2 separate regions of the Homo sapiens genome follow, and region 2 is linked to region 1. A link means that fine-mapping ties the variant in region 1 to the expression of a gene that starts in the linked region. Tissue or cell type: cerebellum. Region 1 holds a variant in brackets; the other region holds the start of a gene. All regions are shown on one strand. Distances are from middle to middle.

Region 1 (8,260 bases):
GGCTGAAGCAAGAGAATCGCTTGAACCCGGGAGGTGGAGGTTGCAGTGAGCCGATATTCCACCCCTGCACTCCAGCCTCAGTGACAGAGCGAGACTCTGTCGCAAAAATAAATAAATAATAAAATTAAATTAATTTAAAAAATTTTTAAAGACTGACTTGATTTTGCTAAAATTAGGTGTGTATGTGTGAGCACATGCATGTATGCAAAAAAGTTATCCAAAAGAAAAGTCACAAATACTGAGATATTTTTGATGACTTTTATTTATTTATGTTTTCCATATCGTTTAAAATTTCACTATGTTTTTCATATTTTAGGACGCAGAAAATATAATAAAGTTGTTTTCTTTTTGTTGAGACAGAGTTTCGCTCTTGTTGCCCAGGCTGGAGTGCAGTGGTGCCATCTTGGCTCACTGCAACCTCCGCCTCCTGGTTCAAGCGATACTCCTGCCTCAGCCTCCTGAGTAGCTGGGATTACAGGCATGCGCCACCATGCCTGGCTAATCTTGTATTTTTAGTAGAGACAGGGTTTCTCCATGTTGGTCGGGCAGGTCGCGAACTCCCGACCTCAGGTGATACTCCCGACCTCAGGTGATCCTCCCGCCTCAGCCTCCCAAAGTGCTGGGATTACAAGCGTGAGCCACCGCACCCGGCCTCATTTTTTAATAATAAAAAATAAATTCTTTATTAAACTCACAAATCACTTACTTTCCATCCCCACTAGATAAAAGCTCTCTTTAACTTAGTGCAGCTTATCACAGCTAGATGTAGGAGGAAGCTAAGCTAATTAATTTTGTGCCAATTTGTGAGTGATTGTTATCTCCACTAACTATCCTTCAGAACATATTTGTGTTCTCAAAATATGAATGAATCTCTAAATGAAGGCATTTAAGGTGGAATAATGATGGAGCACAATAATTTGGGCGATGTGGGTTACATAATTTTGTACAAGAATATGACCTTATAGCAGGTTAACTCTGCCTGGAAATACAGGTCCCTCAGGGTCAGCTTCCTGAAGCTCTTCCCACTTATGCCACATTCTCTAGTCCTGGTGTAGACAGATAACAGTCTCTAGTGTATCTAGTGGACTAGTATAGATCTCTAGTCCTGGTGTAGACAGATAGTTGTTACACACAGAAGTTATTTTTTGTTTTTTTTTCTCAAAGTGGTCAAATTTATTTATTTACTTTTATCACTTCTAACTTAAAATGTCCTTTCTTCTCTAGAGTTTTGTTCAACATTCAGTTCTTTTCTGGTTTTTCTATAATTTGACTTCCGTATATTTACCTTTAATTCAGGTGGAATTTATTTTGATTAGTGTGAGACAAGAATCTAAATTGATCTTGTTCCAAATTACTATTCTCTTCAAAATCATTTATTCAATCACCCTCTTCTACTTGTGGTGCATTATTTATTATATATTAGTATATTACATCTAAAATGAGCTCTTTATCCTATTCTATTGATCTATTTTTGTACCAGTACTAGGACTTATGTAGCTCTAGAATGTTTTAAGTATCGTTAGTGTCAGTCATGACTTTTCTCTTTCAAAATTTCAAAATGCTATTTTCACCCCTTTATTTTTCCTGTAAATTTCAGAATTGTTTTATCAAGTAACTTAAAAATCTTACTGTGGTTTTAGTTTGTATAGCATTACGGTTAAAAATTAACTTGAGGCCGGGCACAGTGGCTCACACCTGCGATTCCAGCACTTTGGGAGGCTGAGGCGGGTAGATCATTTGAGATCAGGAGTTCAAGACCAGCCTGGCCAACATGGTGAGACCCCGTCTCTACTAAAAATACAAAAATTAGCTGGGTATGGTGGCACCTGCCTGTAATCCCAACTACTCTGGAGGCTGAGGTAGGCGAATCACTTGAACCCAGGAGGCGGAGGTTGCAGTGAACAGAGATCACGCCACTGCACTCCAGCCTGTGCAACAGAGTGAGACTGTCTCAAAAAAAACAAAAAAAAATTAACTTGAATCTCTCCACTTCGTACCAACTCATCCTTTTCAGTCTTCCAAGTATTTTCCGCAGCAGCTCTGTGTCAGATATGACAGCAATGAATACACATTATAGGTGGTAACTCAAGGGTTTGTAAGTCAGGATTGCCTGTACTCAAGTTTTAGAAAATTGTCATTTAGGACTTTTGACTAGTAAGCACAATATGTAACACAGGTGTGGGTTTTTTGTTTTTTTTTTAAGTAGTCTTTTGTCATGTTATTATTTCAGGTCAGTATTTGGAGGGTTAGCTACTGATTGTTTGGTTGCCCAGGACTGATATCCTTTGCATCTTCTTCTCATTTTTATAATTGGCTTATTATATTGCATGAGGCCTCTTCAAGTTTTCTTTCTTTTTTTTGAAACTCTAAAGAGTAATGTCTGTCTTTCGAGGATTTGATGAGATTCATTTTGTAAAGCATTCCAAACCTTACACTGGATTATTACATTAACTACCTTTATGATCTCAGAGAAGTCATTTAAGTTCTCTGATTTTAGCTTTTCTCATCTGTAAAATGGGCATAATACAAACACAAGATAATAATGTAAAGGTACCTATAAGCAACCTCTGTATAATCACATGAGAAATGGTGTGCCTTTCCATCTCTCCCTTCCCTCCATTTATCTGTTGGTATCTATTTTGTCAGGTCCTCCCCTGCTTTGGTTCTGTAATTACCCTTCCTAACGGAGTTCCTAAACATCTCCCATGGCTCAATACTTAAGAGCAAGTGGTGAAAAGAACAGAAATATAGTAAATAATTTTGTAAGCAATCTAGTATTAAATTAATTGATATTAAATTAATCACAAATCATTTTAATAGTAGCAAATTAAACTAAGCAAGTGTGTTTGCTCTTTTAAAAAAATGGGTTTAGAAAATTATCATTTTCTAAGTTATTAATGATTAATATAGGGCAATAATTTGGGTGTTGACCTTAAGGACTTGTGTATAGAGTATCTATTAGTACCAAGTGGTAATTTGAAGTATAAATGCTGATTGTATCACCTTAGAGCCAAAATCATTGATTAAACAGGCATATTCAACATTAAAGTGTGTGTGTGTGTTTAATTAAAATTGATTTTGGAAGAATTCTCCAACTACTGTTCCTTTTGTTCAACATTATTTTTTGATTGTGAGAACAAAGTAAAATTGAGGTATTGTTTAAGTTAAATCATGTATGTTGAGAAGTATCTAATTTTGTCTTTTTTTCTCTAAGGCCTAATAACTTATATATCTACTTCATGTCTTAATTTCACTTAAAGCTAAAAAAGGCTTACTAGTGTTCATAATTCAAAAGTTGGAAATTTATCAGAAGATCCTAAATGCTGTAGGAACATTCAGAGCCCTGAGTATAGGGAAAGATGTGGAAAACAAATTTGAGGAAAATAATTATTGGCTTGGCATCACATTTTTTTCATGATAAAATGATATTCTATGTGCTAATTCTGCCATCTGCTATGTTCTATGAGGGCTTTCCTTCAAGCAGTGAAAGCATTTCGTGTTGAGTGTTAGTCTAGTCACAGAAAGAAAGAAAATTCGTGTATATTTGGACATTTCCACTTCATTCACCCAATAATTCTCTCTAGTAATTGTAAAATAGAAATATCATTTTTAAATTTCAAAAAAGAGAAAAAGAGGAATAAGAAAAGGAAAACAGGGCCGGGCACGGTGGCTCATGCCTGTAATCCCAGCACTTTGGGAGGCCGAGGCTGGTGGATCACGAGGTCAAGAGATCGAGACCATCCTGGCCAACACAGTGAAACCCTGTCTCTACTAAAAATACAAAAAATTAGCCGGGCGTTGTGGCAGGCGCCTGTAGTCCCAGCTACTCGGGAGGCTGAGGCAGGAGAATGGCGTGAACCTGGGAGGCGGAGCTTACAGTGAGTCAAGATTGCGCCACTGCACTCCAGCCTGGGTGACAGAGTGAGACTCTGTCTCAAAAAAAAAAAAAAAGAAAGTAAGAAAAGAAAAAAAGAAAAGGAAAACAGAATTTCTAAAATTAAATTGCTTTCCAGCCACAGCCTTGATTTCTTGAACTAACGGTTTCAATAGTGTATTTATTGTTATGTATAGTATAATTCGTATTTTACAGGCAACAACTATCCATCTGTTCTGATAGGTGGAAACTGTCTTTAAATAATAAAGGAGCTCCTTTCTGACACAAATGCTCTCTACCTTTGAACTAGAAATATGCAGGATGATGTTTGCACCAGCCTAACAATTTACATTAAGATCTATTTGATATAGCTTATAAAATCTATTATTTTTGCCAAATACTTCAGTTGAATAGACTAGGCTAGTGTGTGTGTGTATGTGTGTGTGTGGGTGTGTGTAGGTGTGGGTGTGTGTTTAGATTATCTCGGAAATATTTCCAGCTCACTCACAGGTTAATAATCATACAGTGATGTCAGCCAAACCAAGTGCTGACAAGGAAATGAGAGCCCTGTTCAGGAGAGAATGAGTAAATATCCCAAGAGAGGAATCAAACAGCAAGCAGTCATTTTTCATAAAGAGAAAAATCACTAAACTAAAGAAAAGAGGTTTTAAAAATAAGTTAAGTTGAAAACTTGGACAACCTAAACAGACATGCAGATGTGAAGATTCTAACAGGGGAGGCATTTGGAGCATGGCCAGCTCCCTGTTCCACCTGCCACAGGAGTTTGCCTTTGGGCAGATACAGCTCCCAAAGGTGTTTTCTCCCTAGTTTCATGGGGGGAGGGAAAGAGAAAGGTTACAGTTCGGGTGTGTTAGACACACCTCTAGCCAGAGTGGTGTTCTGAGTTATTCACATTGTTGATGACAACAATACTAGAATAAAATAAAATGTGAAAACTGTGTGCTGATTTTTAAGTACCACGTCAATATGCTTAAAAAATAATTTGAGGTTTTGTGTGTCTTTTCTGAACACAGTAACCACACACCACAGTGTCATAGCTTGCTTGCTTGCTTGCTTGCTTGCTTGCTTTTTTTTTTTTTGAGACAGGCCCAGGCTGGAGTGCAGTGGTG[C/T]GGTCTCAGCTCACTGCAACCTCCGCCTCCCAGGTTCAAGTGATTCTCCTGCCTCAGCCTCCCAAGTAGCTGGGATTACAGGCATCTGCTACCATGCCGGGCTAATTTTTTGTATTTTGAGTAGAAATGGGGTTTCACCATGTTGGCCAGGCTGGTCTTGAACTCCTGACCTCGTGATCCGCCTCCCTCAGCCTCCCAAAGTGCTGGGATTACAGGTGTGAGCCACCGCACCCAGCCATAGCTTTCTTACTAATTAAAAATTCCCAGATTTAGAGCCTTTGGAGCTTCAGTATGAACTAACTTCCCAAATTAAAACTGGATTCAGGTACGTCTGTTAACAGATTGGAATTCATTAAATCCCACCACAGACAAATCCTATAAAAAGTGTATATTGTTTCAAATAGCTGGAAAGGAGAGCAGCCTTCCCCATCACTCACCAGAGCTGTGGCTCACCCCAGTAGAGTCATGTTTTTAGCAAGGTTCCTGTGGGAGACCTGTTTATGAAAGTGGCATTTGTGATTCAGACTTCAGCTCCCCATGCCAGCTTCGGAAAGTCAAACAGATGTTTCCTCGTTGACTGCAGCATAGCTCATCACTTATCCCAAGAGGAAAATCAGAAGAGGCTGGGGACAAGTACAGTTCTGTCAGCCACAACCACAAGAAAATGGAGATGGAGGGTGTGTGTGTGTGTGTGTGTGTGTGTGTGTGTGTGTGTTTTGTAGATTTGATTAAATGTAAGTTTAAGTATTGCTTTATTTAAAGATAGAATGATTCATCATCTATAGAAAATTTTATCCTCTACCTAAATTTCCTTTTCTACTCCCTTTTCCCTCCCCATTTCCTGGCAAAGTTCAGTATCTTTATGGGTCTCTTTGGAGTACAATCTTTGTGCTTTTCAGTTTTGCCTTGGATTAATAGGTTGTCTGAAAGCAAAGCTTAGCTCCTGATTTGTTTTATAAGAATAATAAGACCAAAGTTACTTTTCATTCACACATCAAAACACATGCATACCAAGAAAACAAATAAAATGTACATTGAATCTCATATACCACAGTAATGTGGCCTGGGAATTAAACTCATTAAATGGATTTCAAAGAACTGGGTAGTATGTAGTGGAAAACAATTTTGCAGTAAGCCTGAACTAACATTAGGTAGAACATAGTAAGACCTCTTTATTTCTGATCTCTGTGTGTGTGTATATATATATGTATAAACATATATATGTATACATTTTGTATATATATATAAAGTAGTGTTGCTGATTTTTAAGCTAGATATCAAATGCTTTAGAAAATACAAAAAATCAATTTTAACCATTTCCATGTTTTTGTTTTGGACATTTATTAGATATAATCTTGCCTAATTGTAGTCTAAAGTCAGATTTTTAAGTTAGATAAAAAAAAAAAAGCTGATGTCTCTTTGCTTGGATTGAATTCCTCTAGTCCTAGGCCCTAAAACAGTAGAAGGGTTGCGGCTGGTTTAGAAGTTTCTCTGCAAATGTACGTCTCTGTCTCTCCCTTTCAGACACTCTCGTTTGCTCTCCTTTCTTGCTCTGTGCAAACGCAGAGTGGTGTCTGTGTTTCAGGAAAAGAATGTGTGTTAAAAGAACTAATGGTCCGACTGTCCATCAGACTGGGCAGCAATGGAGGTCATCTGGCGGTCAAAACCAAATAATTTCAGCCTGTTCCTAAAGCCCCTGAAGCTGTTGACTCGATGACTGGAGTTCACCGCCTCTTGTTGCTTCTGTATCCTCTGAAACCTGGGACCTTTTTTTTGGAGACAAGAACGGACATATTTTCTCCATAGCAACTGTGTGCACAGTGCCCACCATTCAGCATTTGCTCAGGTTAGCTTGGCTAAAGTATACAGTCAGTGCTCCCTCTTGATACGTGTCTGCCCTGAATAGAAGATAGATCAGATTCTAAACCTAGAGGCCCCCAAAATATTGGAAGAGTCAGGATACTTGTGCATGTTTGAAGCTCATTGTTATACAGAAAATTTAAATATTTAAAAATAGAAAATATTTGTCTGCTTTTATAAAGAGACCCAATGTTCTTAATGCAAAACTTTCTACAGGCACATATTTTAAGGTGACTTCCAAGTTTCCACATTCATATGGAACAGATGGGAATGGAAGTAGTTTCAGTGTGCTGACAACTCCATTAAAAATGTTTTAAAATCCATAATCCATAAATCTGAACCACATATTGGTTATACTCATAGCCCTTTCAGTATTTCTTGTACCCTATTTGTGAATACCACCACCTGCTGGTAGTTAATGACAAGCTCTCACTTTGTTTACTGAAGAATCAACCTAAAAGTCAGTATTAAGTAAAATTTAAATGTTTTTAAGTAGGTACAATTTTGAGGTGAAAATCTATTTACTGTGTTAGTTTGAAACATCCTAACCACAATTAATTTGCAAAAACTTTTAAACAGACATTTGAAAAAAAATGCACATGAAATACTGTTTTGAAATGAAAGCTATTCTTAAATGATAACAATTTTTATTATCTTTTAGCTTCTTTTTCCTTGCTGACAACATTTCAAAGTAATGTTACAGATATCCACACCTTCAAGTCTGAGTTTCATCTCTTCTACTTCTTTTGTTTGCCTGCTTTCTAAAAGAAGTGTGTGTGTGCAATGAAATACCAAGGAGGAGGGACAGGAAAGCATGGAAAATCTACAAGCTGAATAATTAAGTGTTGACTTCTGAAGATTATGTCTGTGACTGAGGGATTTACCACTCTTACTTTGGCATTGGCTCATAAAACATATGTTCACAAAATCTGTTTTATGGGCTTTTTAACAGGATAAGAAATTTAAAATTTACAACAGAATAGGAAAATCAAATCTTCATGCAATGAGATTACAATATACATTGTTTATTTTAATTGTTCAAGTTTTTACTCATCAAACAGAAATATACTATAATACTTTACAATAAAATATAATGTCACATTGCCCAAAACAGTGAATGACAGAATTTTGTGGATTAAGGATATGGATTAAGGTAATCCAAAACTGCAGTTTATTAAACTTCCCCCCCAAAAAACCATGTGTTGTTCTTATTCTGAAGCTATGCTCTTGGAGTTTTCTGGCTTTCTTAAAAATGCATCCCAGTCCAATTTTAATATATGCCTTTTGGTGAGTCATTTTTATGATCTCTTTGCTATCTACTGAGACTCTTAAAATGTACTGGTTTGAGGCCGAACTTGGACTGTGATTCCTTCTTCTTAAATATGGTCTTCTAACC
Region 2 (8,000 bases), 280 kb before region 1:
GGAAAACTTCATTTCTTAGTTGTGGTTCCATAAAAGTTTTATCACATTGGAGTGAAAATAGAGAAGGTCTGTCAAAGATGAAATGTCACCGCCGAGTCGCTGGAGCCGATAAGAGCGAGAAGACAGGGCGGCTGAAATATGGAGCTAATTCGTTGAAAGAGAAGCGATGGCTGCTTGCTGAAGAGCTGCATAATTCTAATTGTAAGCGATGTGCCCGCATTGCTTAATTAGGAGCATATATTTGGTGGTAGTGATGTTGGGGGAGTGAGAATCGTTCCAGGCCCTGCCTTAAAGAGAGGGCTGATTTTCATTTTTATGTTGCATCCTGGCAGTCCAAGGTTAGTAATTATAGTCTTTATGCAACAATAAATAACAATAAAAAAGCAACCTGAACTCTACGCCCTCCCCCTTCCCCACCACCAAGTAGGATTTTAACTGGACTCATCCAAGCAGCAAGCAATTTAGCATTGGGTCAGGCTATAATTTAAAGGCATAAGAGCGTGCAAAGTTTGATTGGGATCAAATAACGCTCAAGGGTTTTTCTTTCTTTCTCTTTCTCTCTTCTTCCTTGAATAACATTTTCTGAATGATATAACTAGATGAAGCACCATGTTTGGCTCTGGGGCTGGGTTGGGTTGTTATTTATCTAGCAGGAAAGAGGCCAAGAAAGAGAATTTAGCTTAAGTTTGAAAAACAGAGCTTTGGCTCGAAGCTGGAATTGCAAACAAGAAAAATAAGAACCAACTTGGCTTGGTGTTCCCTATCCTTCTCTTTGGAAGATTCCAGGCGCTCAGCTAAAGCAGCCAAAGACGTGGGTAAAATATCCGTGCTGTTAAATTCACAGCAGGACAGGGGGGCGGGGGAGGGATGTCTCTGAAAAGGAGGGTTCTCTGGGCCCCTTTTAACACCCAAGTTTTCCGCTGTTTGCTAATCTGGCCATAAAATCTGTCAGTGAGGGTTAGAGAGAGCTGTATTTCCTGCAGGGACAGTCTGCCCGAGTTGCCTGAGATAAGCTCTGGATCCTTCAGCCAGCTACAGAAGCTGTTGCTAAACTTTCAGAGGTGTTCAAGGGGGTGGCCAGAGGGAGAACCCACTCTCAGGCCTCCCTGCATGACTTCCAGACAGCTACTATTTGGATTATTCTATGCCCACCCCCATCCACACCTCTAAATGGCAAAAATTGTTTTCTTTGGAGCCTAGTTGCACACTACTGTCGCTGGCCACTTTGCCCAGGTCAGAGCAGCTCTCTCTGTTCTGAGCCCTCCAGAGCATGCCTCCTCGGTCCCTGCAGCCCCCACCTCCAACTCCCCTTTCTCCATCCTCCTCTCCCCCACCCTCATGCTTCTACTCAGACTTCTCTGTCCTTCTTTTTAAGTACTCACGCAGATGTTACACTGACAGAAAGTTTCTAGTTCCAGCTCCGGGCTCAGTTGCCATTTCTCTGCTAACCAGCCTTCTCCTCCTGGCTGGGCAGCAGAGAGAGAGGAGGGGGAGGGGAGGCCAAAGCCATGGGAGTTCTCCAGGCAAACTTTCCACCCAACTTAGCGCTTTCCCTCTGTCCCCATTTCCCATCTGTTTCCCAGCTCTCCCAGAATCACCCTTCTCTTTTGCACCCCCACCCCCACCCCCAGGCCTTTTTAAGGGATGTGAAATTTTGGCTGTTCGCTCTGCTTTCCCAAAGAGCCAAATTCTTTGATGCAATCGGAGGGAGCTGTCAGGGGGCTAAGATTGATCGCCTCATCTCCTCTCCATCCGTCTGACCCACTTATTTAAAAATCTTCCCCCAGATCGACTTTTCATTTTCTGCTTTGAGGCCTAGTTTCCCACCAATTGCTTGGGGCTCAGAGTCTTGTGCCCTCTCCCCATAGTAAATTACAACACTCTAAACTTCAGACTATCTTGGTCTCCTCAAAATAAAATAAATTTTAAAAACATTTTCCCCCAGCAGCCAGAAATGGAATATCATCTCAGTGGTCATTATTTCCACCCCTACCATCTTCAGGGAATTCTTCCTTGTCAGGGATTCTTTTTTTTTTTTTTTTCTTTTTTCTTTTTTAACTAGCACAATGGCAAAAATGGGAGGGAAAGTCTCTTTGTCCTAGGGGAAAATCTCCCCACCACACTCATGCACACACATAACGCTGATCTGAACTTTGAGAGTGCTCTAAGTTAAACCAATGGCTACCTCAGTTCTTGTTCATGTCCCTGGATATGGATACAGATACAAGCTTGAGGCTTGAGTGGGTACATGCACATCTTAGACTCTGCCTGTTTTTGGGGGATGTCACAGAGAAGCATGGAAGCCTGAAAGTGAGGAAAGCAGGGGTACATAAGGGGCAGAGGCAGTGCTGCAAACACTGGGCAGAGAAGAGAACCCAGACCATACAGCGATGGAGGCCAGAGGCCCAAAAATGCCCCTTATGCTCCATCTCACTCCTATGTGTCTGCCTGGGAGTTCCTGTCCATTTCCCAAGATTTAACTGTTGTTTTTGGAGGGTAACAGGGATAGTGGTGTGATGATTGTAAATCTCTTTCTTATTTTCACCTTAATACTGACCTTTTTCAAAGAGTGGAAGCCTCTTTCGACTCCCTCTTCCTCCAACGCGGAGATCCTCACTCATCTTTTCCTGGGGAAGGGGAGAAGGGAAGGGGATGCTGCTGGCCACGTAAAGAAGGCCTTAATTTACTCTATTAAAATACTTGGAAAAGAGGAAGGTTTCTCCCTTAGAGTCTCTTCTTTTCCAGGCTTCTGAAACCTTCTAACCTTCGAAGGGGATGAGGAAAAGGTTCCTCTAGCTTTTCTGGAGAAACGGAGGCATTGGGGAGAGAGCATGTGAGGCACTGGTGTAGGAATGGGGGCTCATGGTGTCCTGGTCGTGGTCCTCTGGTGTTTTTGAATCAATTAAACCAAATAATGCTCTCTGTTTTCCACCAGGCCCAGACGAGCGATTGGCGGAGGCCGGTCCCGTGACCACGAATTCCCTGTAATTTCGCTGGAGTCCTGGGTTTAATAGAGAGAGTCCCCATACGCTTGTATTTATCAGCAATATACAATTATAAAGGCCCAAAATTAAAAAAAAGAGAGACCGAAATCTCCCCCTCCCAAAATCGCTCCATTACATAAATCGGGGGGGGTGCAGGAGGGGGGTCCCTTCCGATCCTCCCTCCTGACGCCCCCCCCAGCAGCCCCCTCCCCCACCATTGAAAGCCATGAATTTTGAATTTGAGAGGGAGATTGGGTTTATAAACAGCCAGCCGTCGCTCGCCGAGTGTCTGACTTCCTTCCCCGCTGTCTTGGAGACATTTCAAACTTCATCAATCAAGGAGTCGACATTAATTCCTCCTCCTCCTCCTTTCGAGCAAACCTTCCCCAGCCTCCAGCCCGGCGCCTCCACCCTTCAGAGACCCAGGAGCCAAAAGCGAGCCGAAGATGGGCCTGCTCTGCCGCCGCCACCGCCGCCGCCACTCCCCGCTGCCCCCCCGGCCCCCGAGTTCCCTTGGATGAAAGAGAAGAAATCCGCCAAGAAACCCAGCCAATCCGCCACGTCTCCTTCTCCGGCCGCCTCCGCCGTTCCGGCCTCCGGGGTCGGATCGCCTGCAGGTCGGTAAGCGTGGTGGGGGTGGGGTGAGGGGCAGCTAGAAGAGGGGGAGAAAAAGCAGTGGAAGGAGGTTTAAAAAAAATGGTGGCGAGCCTGTTGGGGTTCCTTACCCCCTCCATTCCTGGGATGGGGAAGTAGAATATCCCACTGGGGTTCAGGCCTGGCCGCTAACAGCGTCTTTTTTTTTTTCTGTCTCTCTCTCTCTTTCTCTCCCTATGGCTGATTTTGGAAGCTGGTTGGGGAAACGCCTTTTTTTCTGCTAGAAGAAAATGATTTGATTGAGGTTTTCACCCGTATCTGTGTAGGGGAATGAGTATGTTGTTGCTGGGATAGACCCTAGAAGCAGAAAAGATTCGGTCCTTTCTGCCCCAACTCTAGGAGAAGAGGAAGAATTCAGAGCTAGGGAGGAAGAGGGGTGAAGAACAATCTTTCTGACCCTCGCTCCGGTTGAGTTGGAAAGTTCCGAATTGAGGGGTCCACTGGGAGGGCTTGGGAGGGGGATCTGAGGTTCCGGCGCCGAAGGGAGCCGCTCTCCGCCCCCTGCGTGGCCCGTGGGCGGCTCTGAATGCTTTGCCCTGACCCGGGCCGGGGCTGTAGACTAGAGAGGGAGAGAAGAAAACCCAAAAGCAGTAAAGCGAGCGGCTTTGGGGTGGGGGCGGGGGTGGGGTGGCGAGGAAGGGGAGAGGTGATACTGGTTTTGGAGGATGGGGTAGTCCGAACTGAGGTTGGGCTGAGTACACGGCCCGCTATGACGCCGAGCCTGTTTTCCCTGCAGATGGCCTGGGACTGCCGGAGGCTGGTGGCGGCGGGGCGCGCAGGCTGCGCACGGCTTACACCAACACGCAGCTGCTGGAACTGGAGAAGGAATTCCACTTTAATAAGTACCTGTGCCGGCCACGCCGCGTCGAGATCGCGGCCTTGCTGGACCTCACCGAAAGGCAGGTCAAAGTCTGGTTTCAGAACCGGCGCATGAAGCACAAGCGGCAGACGCAGCACCGAGAGCCGCCGGATGGGGAGCCTGCCTGCCCGGGAGCCCTGGAGGACATCTGCGACCCTGCCGAGGAACCCGCGGCCAGCCCGGGCGGCCCCTCCGCCTCGCGGGCGGCGTGGGAAGCCTGCTGTCACCCGCCGGAGGTGGTGCCGGGGGCCTTAAGCGCGGACCCCCGGCCTTTAGCCGTTCGCTTAGAGGGCGCAGGCGCGTCGAGTCCCGGCTGCGCGCTGCGCGGGGCCGGCGGGCTGGAGCCCGGGCCATTGCCAGAAGACGTCTTCTCGGGGCGCCAGGATTCACCTTTCCTTCCCGACCTCAACTTCTTCGCGGCCGACTCCTGTCTCCAGCTATCCGGAGGCCTCTCCCCTAGCCTACAGGGTTCTCTCGACAGCCCGGTCCCTTTTTCCGAGGAAGAGCTGGATTTTTTCACCAGTACGCTCTGTGCCATCGACCTGCAGTTTCCCTAACCTGTTTCCTCCTCCCGGTCCTTTCGACCCCCGCGCTCCTTGGCCGTCTACTGGAAAAATCGAGCCTCTCCCACCCTCAGTCGCATAGACTTATGTGTTTTGCTAAAATTCAGGTATTACTGAATTAGCGTTTAATCCACTCCCTTTCTTCTTCTTCTAAAATATTGGGCACTCGGTTATCTTTTAAAATTCACACAGAAAAATTCCGTTTGGTAGACTCCTTCCAATGAAATCTCAGGAATAATTAAACTCTAGGGGGACTTTCTTAAAAATAACTAGAGGGACCTATTTTCCTCTTTTTTATGTTTTAGACTGTAGATTATTTATTAAAATTCTTTAATAATAGGAAAAGGGGAAAGTATTTATTGTACATTATTTTCATAGATTAAATAAATGTCTTTATAATACCAAAACGAGTGTTTGTGTTGGGACCTAAACTCTTTCCCCGCGGCCCCAAGGCCGGTCCTCACCCCTCCAGGACCTGTGCGAAGTTGATTAGGTTCAGCGGCCCATATGGCAGCAAAGCCTCCAGGGCCGGCGAAGTCCGGGTGGTACAAAGGTGACCCGATTGATGGCCGCTTCGCCCACGGCTCCGGCAAAAGTCGGGAGTTTGCAGGAAGCTGGGTCACCTCCCCGCCCCTCAGCAGAGGGTCTTTGGTCCTGAGCGGGTGGTTCTGGGGCCTCTGCTTGGAAATAGAGATGGGCAGGTCGAGGGAGAGAGTGTACAGCGAACAGAGGAGGGTGAAAGGAGAGGAAGCCTGTGGACAGTCTTCAGGGTCGTGGCGGGGGCAGAAGTTTACTGGAATTGGGAACAATCCAAGGGCTTCCTAGGCTTTTGCTTCTTATGACCGAAGCCGGTGTAGGACCTTTTTCCGAACTCAAGAAGCCTAGGGACGCGAGGCCTGGGGCTTGAGCCGGGCCTCTTTGGGAGCTGTAGGTGGCTCTCCAAGGAGTGGAGTGGGGTCGGGGATTTTCTCGGGAAGCAGGGTCCCGCACCCAGGGATGGTAACTGGCTTCCCAGTGGGCAAGAAAAGAGGCCAGCTGAGAAATGTGGCGCTGCCGGGACACCCATGGACTCGGGCTGCTGGGGTTTGGGAGACCATCCAAGCAGCAGCCGGGCGAGAAGCCCAGGGTGGCCCGGCAGCGTCGCGAGGCGCTGGACCTGCGGGGAGAGAAGGAGGAGCGAGGAGAGCGGGAGGGAGACAGGGAAGCAAAGACGATGCTCAAAATGGCGCTGGGGCCGGGCGGCGGGCCGGGGGGGGGGCGAGGGAAGAAGCTGTGGCCGCCATGACAGCCGCTGCAGGAGGCGCCGGCCCAGCCGGGATCTGCCCCCGCCCCTGCGTCCTCCCAGCTGGATTTTCCAGAGGCCAGGGAAGAAGGGGAGCCTGGGGGGTCCCACCTTCGTTTTAGTTAGTTTGATTTTTTTATTTTTAAAGTGGAGCCCAACGGACGCTGAGGACGCGAGATGGAAGGAGAGTCCGGGTGGATGTGGGAAGGGAAGGAGAGCGGCGGGTCTGCGGGCCTGGGTGTGCCTCATCCAGTCTGACTTTTGATTCTTCGCTGTGGGATTTGAAGCCAGGCCAGAGCTTTCTCTGAATGCAGACCCACCAGTCTTGACCAACAACTTCATTTCACGTATCAACACCATGTCCTGTCTATCCCCCACCACACCCTGCCTGGTTCCTTGTAAACCTGGTAAGCGGGAAGCAAGGATCGATCTCCCCCATCTGCCTCCTGGTTTGTTCTGGGAAGGTGGAGGTTTAAAGGTCCCCGGAAAGCCATCCATCCTCCTTAGGTTTCTTTAATATTTCTCCCGCTCAGAAACAGACACTACGGGGCTATCTCCCCGGCAGATGCTGCCCTTCTCAAAAAGCAGTTTATTTCCTGGGCCTCCAGACTTTCCCCTGGACCAACAGGACCGGGATTTAGAGTACCAGTCACCCAGAGGCAGCAATTGTCAGGATAAGCCAGGAGCCAACATAGGTTGTGACACAGAGGACTAGACAGGCCCTTTGCATATTTTAAAATGGGTCCCTCAGTGTGGGAAGTACACACCTCTTAGTTAGCTGGAACTTAATCCCTTAAACTGTCTTAATATAGAATTCATCTCGTGCATTAATCTTACATCATGTTAAATTGCACTTATTTCTCTCATAAATAAATATAGAACAATTAGATGTGTTATAATAATGTCATGTATCTTATTTTCCCTCATAAAATATATAGGTATGAAATAAATTCAATATATTAAAGTAGTAATACACAGCTTATTGGCTTATGTGTTTATTTTCCCCATAAATAAGGGAATATACAATATATTAAAACTACGCTATACATCTCATTGGGCTGTGTGTTTATTTCTCCATAAAATATGCCCACAGGCAGTGTTTAACATCTTAAAAATCACAGCACACAAGCCATCTCTACACTAGCAAAATGAACAGATATTTCAGCTGGGGCTTTGATTTCTATGGACAGTCAAACTAGATAATTTGGTCTAATTAAAAATGCTCTTGCAGCTAGCTATAGCAGGTTGTTACAAAGATCAAGAATATCACAAGGATCTTGCTAATGTCCTACCTTCCAGTTTCTTTGGTCAAAATGAGAGCACCCTTCCTCAATGCCAAAAAAATGCAGAGTTGGCTCTGCAGGAGAGAATTCCTATCCCCCATCATGGTCTGCAGCACTCAAGGGCCTCCGATGCACCAGTTCTCTGCAGCCTGGCTGCTCCATGGACCAGCAGCATCAGCACTACCTATGAGCTACTTAGAAATACAGAATCTTAGGCCCCTGAATCAGACCTACTGAATCAGAATTTGCAGTTTAGCAGCTCCCCAAGTGATTTATGTACACTTAAAAGTTTGAGAAGTACTGCTAGATCACAGTGCCACCTTGCTTTCTGCCTTCCTCCATGCTTCAGAATTTTTGACTCACTTTACCTGGCCC

What was found. PIP is the estimated chance that this variant, and not a neighbour inherited with it, causes the effect.
Region 2: it holds the start of HOXB-AS1, and the variant in region 1 is fine-mapped to the expression of HOXB-AS1 in cerebellum (GTEx, PIP 0.93).

What each region holds. Positions count from the first base shown.
Region 1 is chr17:48,262,205-48,270,464 of GRCh38, reverse strand. All of the region lies in intron 4 of SKAP1 (src kinase associated phosphoprotein 1), which reads left to right. Among named protein-coding and RNA genes, the nearest start is that of SKAP1-AS2, 28 kb to the left of the region's middle. The variant C/T (reference allele first, on the strand shown) is at 5,005.
Region 2 is chr17:48,540,122-48,548,121 of GRCh38, reverse strand. HOXB-AS1 (HOXB cluster antisense RNA 1) reads right to left here and starts at 3,771. Exons shown (of 7, transcript NR_102279.1): 1 at 3,710-3,771; 2 at 2,765-3,001; 3 at 2,558-2,627. HOXB2 (homeobox B2) reads left to right here and starts at 3,013. Exons shown (of 2, transcript NM_002145.4): 1 at 3,013-3,601; 2 at 4,375-5,467. The coding sequence starts at 3,211. The coding sequence ends at 5,054. RefSeq lists an enhancer at 4,145-4,790 and a silencer at 4,598-4,887.